Regions from separate parts of the Homo sapiens genome. Here region 1 is linked to region 2. The links come from fine-mapping of genetic effects on gene expression. A gene starts in region 2. The other region holds a variant in brackets. All regions are shown on one strand. Distances are from middle to middle. Region 1 has its middle 5.8 kb from the start of APPL1. Region 2 holds the start of ASB14 (ankyrin repeat and SOCS box containing 14).

The links. PIP is the estimated chance that this variant, and not a neighbour inherited with it, causes the effect.
Region 1: its variant is the best candidate, but not a certain one, in a credible set for the expression of ASB14 in skeletal muscle (GTEx, PIP 0.63).

What each region holds. Positions count from the first base shown.
Region 1 is chr3:57,219,725-57,224,123 of GRCh38, forward strand. It overlaps a transcript of HESX1 not described here. Among named protein-coding and RNA genes, the nearest start is that of APPL1, 5.8 kb to the right of the region's middle. The variant C/T (reference allele first, on the strand shown) is at 2,179.
Region 2 is chr3:57,290,775-57,295,164 of GRCh38, forward strand. It overlaps ASB14 (ankyrin repeat and SOCS box containing 14), which reads right to left and starts at 1,911. Exons shown (of 11, transcript NM_001142733.3): 1 at 1,859-1,911; 2 at 1,138-1,330. The coding sequence starts at 1,259. DNAH12 (dynein axonemal heavy chain 12) reads right to left here. Exons shown (of 74, transcript NM_001366028.2): 74 at 2,926-3,197. The coding sequence ends at 3,007. LOC124909384 (a long non-coding RNA gene) reads left to right here and starts at 2,017. Exons shown (of 2, transcript XR_007095923.1): 1 at 2,017-2,618.

The DNA.
Region 1 (4,399 bases), 71 kb before region 2:
GATGCTGAATATTAGACCTTTGTCAGATGCATAGTTTCCAAAAATTTTCTCCCATTCTGTAGGTTGTCTGTTTACTCTGTTGATATTTTCTTTTGCTGTGCAGAAGCTCTTAAGTTTAATGAGATCCCATTTGTCAATTTTTGCTTTTGTTGCAATTGCTTTTGGCATTTTCATCATGAAATCTTTGCCTAATCCTATGTCCACAACGGTATTGCCTAGGTTTTCTTCCAGGGTTTTTGTAATTTTGGGTTTTACATTTAAGTCTTCAATCCATCTTTAATTGATTTTTGTATATGGCGTAAAAAAGGGTCCAGTTTCAATCTTCGACATATGGCTTGCCAGATAGTCCAGCACCATTTATTAAACAGGGAGTCCTTTCCCTATTGCTCGTTTTTGTCAGCTTTGTTGAAGATCAGATGGTTGCAGGTGTGCAGCCTTATTTCTGCGCTCTCTACTCTGTTCCATTGGTCTATGTACCTATTTTTGTACCAATACCATGCTGTTTTGGTTACTGTAGCCCTGTAGCAGAGCATGAAGTCATTTTTTATGACTTTTTTAAAGCATTGTCTTAACACATTGCTTTTTGTCCTGTTTATAGTGAATGTGATTTAGCTAAATCACTAATGTAGTCTTTTCCCTTTAAATCAAAGGATCTTGTAAATGATTGAGTTTACTTAAGACAAAGTTAATTTGCCATTTGTTTATTTATTTATTTATTTTTCTGAGACAGATTCTCACTCTGTCGCCCAGGGTGGAGTGCAGCGGTGCGATCTTGGCTCACCGCAACCTCTGCCCCCCAGGCTCAAGTGATTCTCCTGCTTCAGCCTCCCAAGTAGCTGGGATTACAGGCGTGCACCACCACTGCCCATCTAATTTTTGTATTTTTAGTGGAGACAGGGTTTCATCATATTGGCCAGGCTAGTCTTGAACTCCTGACCTCAAATGATCCACCCACCTTGGCCTCCCAAAGTGCTGGGATTACAGGCATGAGCCACCATGCCTGGCCACCCACAATTTATTATATAGTATATCACCAATTCTCCAGTTTCCCCAACACTTGTTTCAAATTGCTGCCTTTATTAAAGGTGTTTTTGTCCAAAATTAGGGTAAGAGCCAAAGTCCTCATAGTGGGCACAAGGCTTTGCCTGACGTGGCCTCCTCTCCCTTTCTTTACACCTCAGGCTTTCCCCTGGCTTGCTCTTCTCCTGTCATCTTGGGCTCTGCGCAATTCTTGAACCAGGCCAGGCCACTCTTACATTAGGGGTGACGGCTTCTGCCCTGATGGTCTCTCCTTCTGGAATGTTTGCTCCCTAGATATCCCCATGGCTCATTCCAGCCACTCCAAGTTTTTGTTCAGGTGTTACTTTCTCAATGAAGCCCATTCTGAAGAACCTGTTTAAAATTGCAGCTGCCCCGGCTCTGTTTTCCCTAATTTTTTTTTTTTTTTGAGACAAGGCCTTGCTCTGTCACCCATGCTGGAGTGCAGCCTGTACTCCATGGCTCAATGCAGCCTCCAACTCTCCAGCTCAAGCGATCCTCCCACCTCAGCCTCCCAAGTAGCTAGGACCATAGGTACACACCACCATACCCAGCCAATTAAAAACTTTTTTTTTGTTAAGATGGGTTCTTGTCATGTTGCTCAGGCTGGTCTTGAACTCCTGGGCTCAAGCCATCCTCCCACCTCAGCCTCCCAAAGTGCTGGGATTACAAGCATGAGCTGCTGTGCCTGGCCTTCCCTACTCTATTTTCTATAGCACTTATGACATTCTAACATACTATTCTTTATTTTACTATATAAGATAAGGTTTGCCCAGGCTGGAGTACAGGGGTGCAATCATAGCTCACTACAGCCTTGTAGCTGTAATATGCTATACTTCTTATATATCTATTTATTTATTTTGAGATGGAGTCGTGCTCTGTCACCCAGGCTGGAGTGCAGTGGCACAATCTCGGCTCACTGCAAACTCTGCCTCCCGGGTTCAAGCGATTCTCCTGCCTCAGCCTCCCGAGCAGCTGGGACTACAGTCACGTGCCACCATGCCCAGCTAATTTTTGTATTTTTAGTAGAGATGGGGTTTCGCCATATTGTCAAGGCTGGTCTTGAACTCCTGATCTCGTGATCCACCCGCCTTGGCCTCCCAAAGTGCTGGGATTATAGGCATGAGCCACTGCTCCCGG[C/T]CAATATGCTATACTTCTAATACTACTTACTATGTTTATTTTTTATTGTCTTTCTCCCCACCATATCTACTAACCTGTAGCTCCACAATGACAGATATTTTTGTTTTGTTCATTATTTAATAAATATTTGTTGAATGAAGACAGCTGTTCCCTGAGGTAGTCTGAATCCTAAATAATTGGTGCCATCTAGTGTTCTTGGAAGCACGTGTGAATTATCCCTGAGAGTCTTATTTGTATTAGCCATTGGATAAATAGTACTGGTATAATCAATTCTGCTACTCTGTTTTTCACTGCCCTCTATGGCTCTGAAAATATTAAAATGTTTTCAATGATTAAACAGGCACAGGACATATTAATTTCCCTAAAAGCATTTTTTTGAGACAGGGTCTCGCTATCACCAGGCTGGAGTACAGCGGCAAGATCACGGCTCACTGCAGCCTTGACCTCCTGGGCTTAAGCAATCCTCCCACCTCAGCCTCCCGAGTAACTGGGACTACAGGCATGTGCCACCACACCTGGCTAATTTTTAAATTTTTTGTAGAGACACGGTCTCACTATGTTGCACAGGTTAGTCTCAAATTCCTGGGCTCAAGCGATCCTCCCACCTCAGCCTCCCAAAATTTTGGGATTACAGCTGTGAGCCACCGCCCCCAGCCTATGAGCAATTTTTTCCCCAATGATTTGACTGTTCCTTCCAGAATTCCCATGTGGGGTAAGTGTCATGAAAATCTTTTAACTTTGGGGCACCTCTACCCACTCACCACCCGCCAAACAAAAAACAAAACAAAAAACAAAACAAAAACTCCTAAAAACCTCAAAATGGCAATAATCTTGGCTATTTTGGTAATTGTTTTGGTACACTTTTCCTCCAGAATTTCAAAGTACATATTTATTGATTTTGAAATTTTGGTTTTGGCCTCAAAAGCCCCCAAATCAAAGTGATAAAACATTAGCAAGAGTAACTAATGTTATTTAAAATAGCATCAGGATTCTCTAAGGTAATGAGCCCAATCTTCTGATTTAAAAAATATTAGTTTTTAAAAAAATATGATAGAGACAAAAAAGCTTCCTTAAATGTATTAAAATATTTTAATATTTAATAGTTGATAATGAAAAAGATAATTTTTACTGAATGCTTATTGCGCTAGGAGCTACTCTAAAAGCTCATTAATCATCTTAACAATACTATTAATGTAAGTTCTCTAGTATTAAGCTCCATTTTTCAGATGGCAGAATGGAGAAACAGAGAAGTTAAATAACCTTACTTAAGTCACAGAGCTACTAAACAGTGGAGCCAGAATTTAAATCACAGCCCAAGCTTATTAGCTCATAACCATGTTCTCATCTACCTCTCCACAGAAGGGCTATGATGCTATTTTGTGTTAAAGTTCTTGGCCTGCTCAGACAAATTAATTAATGTGTTCTTCTAAAAAGGAATCAAGGCAACCATAGATAAACAAAAGCATATACAATTTTCCTAGAAGTTTTTTTTTTTCTTTTTACCATCAAGAAAGTTGAAGCTGCAGAATTGTCCCACATTCTAAGGATGCTGTGGCAATGAGTAAAAGTGACATCAAGGTCAAGGTCAAAGGCAGAAGCTAGTTTGCAGTGGCACAATGAAGAACCAACCAGTTGGTCCTTAGTGCCCTCCCACCTCTTTTTGCAACCCATTCCTCAGAACTTTTTGTTTTACCCTCCAATTGTCCAAAGCTTCCCCCTACTCTGCTACTGGCTCTAATGTTTTAAAATAGATTAAATGACTGAAGTTCCCAAATTATCAATTTTCTTGAAATCTGCTCTTTCCTGAATCTGCTTTATCTCAGCTGGTATTAAGAAAATAATGAATTATCTGTTAAAGTTAGTCCTATTAAGGAGTGATTTACTAGGTAACAACCAGAATTTTTTGCATTATACATTACACTCTTTAAAAGGAGTATGAATTTCCCAGAATTTTAGATTGATGGAGTCTTTTAGAGAATATTTGTGAGTAGGTGGTTTCCAGCTCGTTAGCCTGGAAATCATGTCCTCACCATCCTTAGCTGGAATCTAGGATTCCTTTTCTAAATGTTTGCTTGACTCTTTATTTTTTGTTAATTTTTGTTTTAATTTAGACTGAGTCTCGCTTTGTCACCCAGGTTGGAGTGCAGTGGTGTGATTTCGGCTCACTGCAACCTCCGCCTCCCAAGTTCAAGCGATTCTCCTGCCTCAGCCTCCCGAGTAG
Region 2 (4,390 bases):
GTTACTCAATTATGCAATTTAAGGTTTTAATCATAAGGTTAATATAACAGATAATCTAATAAGGCTAATTTCTTTACAAAACTTTAAATATTTAAAGATTATTTTAAAAACTAATCCTAAATTGAACACAAAAGTATAGGAATAGTGTGTGGCTAAGAGCACAGACTTTAGAATCAGACTGCCTTGCTCTTCACTTACTAGTTCTGTGACCTTGGGTAAGCCACTTAACTTTTCTGTGCCTCACTTTCCTCCTCTCTAAGTAGGGATAATAATAGGACCTACCTCATAGAGAGGTAATGAGAATTAGAATTTAAAAGTTAGTATTTATGAAGTGCTTAAAATAACATGACACATAGTGATCACTCCATGGTTTGTTACATTTTAAAAATACTATATAGGTTTGATGTACTTCATTGTCTCTATTTAGTTATGAAATCTCTTGGGGTTAAAAGACATTTTTCTAGTTTTACATCCAGCAGGCAAATAGAGATTACCATCCCAAGTAAACTGGGTTATCACCCCTGAAAAAATGATGGTTACTGCCTCAGGAGACCAAGGTTGCTGATTGGCCAGCGAGCGTGTGAGCAGGTGTGCCATATCCAGGACGATTCTTCTTACACCCCACACAGGGTCCCACTGGTCCTTTTTCAGTGTTGTCCAACAAAACTCTGAATCTACACTTTCAGAAGCCTTGTTCAAGTTTATGTAATTCCTCCTTTTGATTTGAGTAGATCAAAGACTGGACCCCATCCCCACCTACCCTACTAAGGTTGAAGATAACTAACTTTCTATGTGTCCCGGTTGGATTTATGCATTTCTTCAATTCCCAAAGACAAGATGTATTAGTTTTTCTCTAGCCCTTCATATCCTCCTTTCTTTCTTCTGATTTCCAGTCTGTATCACCTCACCCAGATTTGCTGCTAACCTCCTTCAGATATTTTTATTGCCTAATTAAATTCTGAATTATTTCCAGATTATTCCTGTCTAGTTAGGCATAATATCTTACAGATATTTAATTGACAGCTCCTTGGATTCTGACCCTCCTGTTTTTGTCACAACACTAGAGTTAAGCTAATGACAAGTGTCAGCTGTTGAATACAACACTTAATACTATATTGCCGATGAGAAAACCATTACCTCTCATCCTTAGGTGCATGTTGTGCTGTTCCTGGCTTATAAATATCCTGCAAACTCTGTTGAATGATGAGCTGGGTGTCAAAGTCTTCATCTATGTCTTCATCGCTGGTGTAATTATCCATGTGAAACGTGGACAGGTTTACTTTAAAGTCAGAGTGAATTAAAAGTATTTTTCCAGTTGTGAAGAGATCAACTGCTTAAAATTACAAATGAAATTCAGAAATCTAGAAAATTGGTAGGATTAACAATGAAAAATATACAAAATTTAGGAAACAAAATATTCACTAAAAAATTTCTATAAACTTAAAAAAGTTTTGTGGACTGCCACAGATTCAACAAAAATTAGAAGTTTCCATGAGTAGCCATTGACTTAAAGCTTATTCAGGAAAAACCACCTTTCAAATAAGACTTCGGTTAGTGCCACTCTAACACTGACAACACTCTGATCTGTTCAACTTGGCTGTGAGTCTTTCACAGTGATTGTAGCACTCATCCAAAATAATATCTTTCCTACACACAGTGTGATGCTGAAAATAATATTTTACTTAATATACATTAAAAATAAACATGTTATAGGAACAAATGTATTCTCATAATTACAACATGGATACAGCAGTAGTAAAAACAAATGTATCTTACTAGGCAATATCTAAATGGTTTTAAAAGAAAAATGTCAGTTTTAGCATAGAATACATTTGGTCACATTTCAAAGACTTTTTACCTTTTGTTTTATCCTCTAGGACAGCAGTGAAGTTTTCACTGTTAAGGACTAACACATGTAAGCCTCAGAATTTTCATTTATATTTAGGCTCTCCTCTCCCCTGTAGTGACCATTCCATTAATAGCTTTACTATAAATACTTCATCATAAGACAGTTTGGCACATTCTCCTTGTTTTTTACATGTGGTTTAGCTCTTTTTGGAAACATGATCTCTTTTCTTCAGTGCTACATTCATCAAATTTAAAGGATTAAATATTTTATTCCTGGAATAAAATGCTTTTGCAGGGGGTTGGCCATGCAAAGAGAATTCATGCACATAGCCACTGCAAACCACAATCAATTTTTCACTTAAGAGAACCCAAACATTTTGCTCTGACCCAATTATCCAAAGTGACTGTCCCAATGTACTAGATTCACTAGGTAGCTGTGACTACATTTTCCTTGGGTTACAGAACTGTGGCCTTCAGTGTCCTTGGAATCCTAAGGGAAGAATTCACTCTACACAAGATAAAATTTTGATCAAAATTCTGTTTTGTTGAAATATTTTTAAATTGTTAATATACACTAAAAAAAGCAAAGGGACCACTTGACATTTCAAATTAAATATGAAGCAAATGCCGAGAAGCACACTGTCACTGCAGGTGTAGAAGTTCGGACTGCCCTCAAGCCATCCTACTGCCTTTGCAGGCCAACTTCGCAGCTTTGAGTTTCCTTTCCTAGTCACAAGGATGCAGTGAGAAATGGAACCGATGTCTTAGAGGTAAGAAATAAAGAGGTATAGTTGGGTAACTTTTAATATTTTCCATATTTATAATTTCTTAATTTATGTATTTGAAATATTTATGTATAATTACTTTAGGTAGGAGAGTGGAAAGTAAACTATACTGAAGCTGAAGGAATGACTTAACATTTGTGAAGGAGATAATTCCTGATATTTGTTAAATGTTACCGTTTAACCCCCAAATCTATTTTTCACATACAATCAAACTTCAAAAAGTTCTCCTCAGAAAGGAGAACAATGCAATGAGTGTTTGCAAAGATCATTTAAAAGAATAACACCAAAACACTTGGTTTTATAATGTATATATTTTAAGTAGGACAGGTTTTTTTTTTTTTAAACTTTTGGATGTTTTATAAATTTGTCCAATTTAGTCATCCAACTGACAAAGCAAAGCAACCCCGCGCTTGATCCAGTGCCGAGTAGGTTGGTCTGTTTTTAACAACATTGCAATGACAAAGTTAGTAGAATGTCCCGTAGTGGAAAGAGTTCCTTTACGTTCACTTGTCTTGTAGAGGGGACAGACATAGGCATCCGACTTTATAATCCGAGATTTTTGAGCTTGAAAAAAAAAAAGAAATATATTCACTTGATAAAGGGAAAAACAGCCATTGGTACGAAAAGAACTATTTATCTTGTAATAAAATGGCCAGAACTAAATCTAAGATCATAATTGTGATATATGAAGGTTTTACAGCATATATATTTTTTTACAGTACATATAGTATTACGGTTGTGAAACAAGGCAAGTATTTCTTTTCTTTTCTTTTTTTTTTTTTTTTTGGAGACTGAGTCTCACTCTGTCACCTAGGCTGGAGTACAGTGGCACAATCTCGGCTCACTGCAACCTCTGCCTCCCAGGTTCAAGCGATTCTCTTGTCTCAGCCTCCTGAGTAGGTGGGACTACAGGTGCCTGCCACCATGCCTTGCTAATTTTTGTATTTTTAGTAGAGACGGGGTTTCACTATGTTGGCCAGGCTGGTCTTGAACCCCTGACCTCGTGATCTGCCCGCCTCAGCCTCCCAAAGTGCTGGGATTACAGGCGTGAGCCACTGCGCCCAGCCCAAGGCAAGTATTTCGTATGGTGCATGATTCTAGGTGTGGAAGACAGGAATAGACTTTAAAGTTCTGACCGCTTAGCAGGCATGAGAAAACTCAAGAGGATTTGGGAGGGGAGAATGAGAAGGGAGGGAAGAAGGAATAAAATACAGTATAGGTAGTGGGGGAGACTCAAAAGAAGAAATACAACTGCTTAGAGCTCTAATCCAAGAAACCCACACATTAGAAGAAGCTGACGTTTCTATTTGTTTTTAGCAGGTAAATAATAAGAAAAACATGTCAACTCTTACCAATTCATGAAAAGAAACTATATACAATCCCCAAAAAGCCAGATATAAGATATTAAGAGTCTTTCCAAACTAAGGTCACGTTTCTCATAGTTATAACTGAACCACATTCGTAATGAGAATATTTGATAGGTTGGATGGTGATTCTGGGTGATCAGTAAATATTTTAAGAAATTGTTGTTATTTAAGAATTAAAAAGTTAGGGAAGAGAAAACAAAAGAATGAGACTTTTTTTTCCAGACTTGTAGAAAGATGATGATGGCAGAAGCAGGGGAGGAGCAAGCAGTTTCCTAAATGGGGCAAAATTGGCCCCCACCCCATGTGGCTAGCAACATCTATGCCTTGGGGGACCTGGCTGGCTCCTAGGCCTAGCAGTTTCTTATAGCCAGAAAATGCTAGTCACTAGCG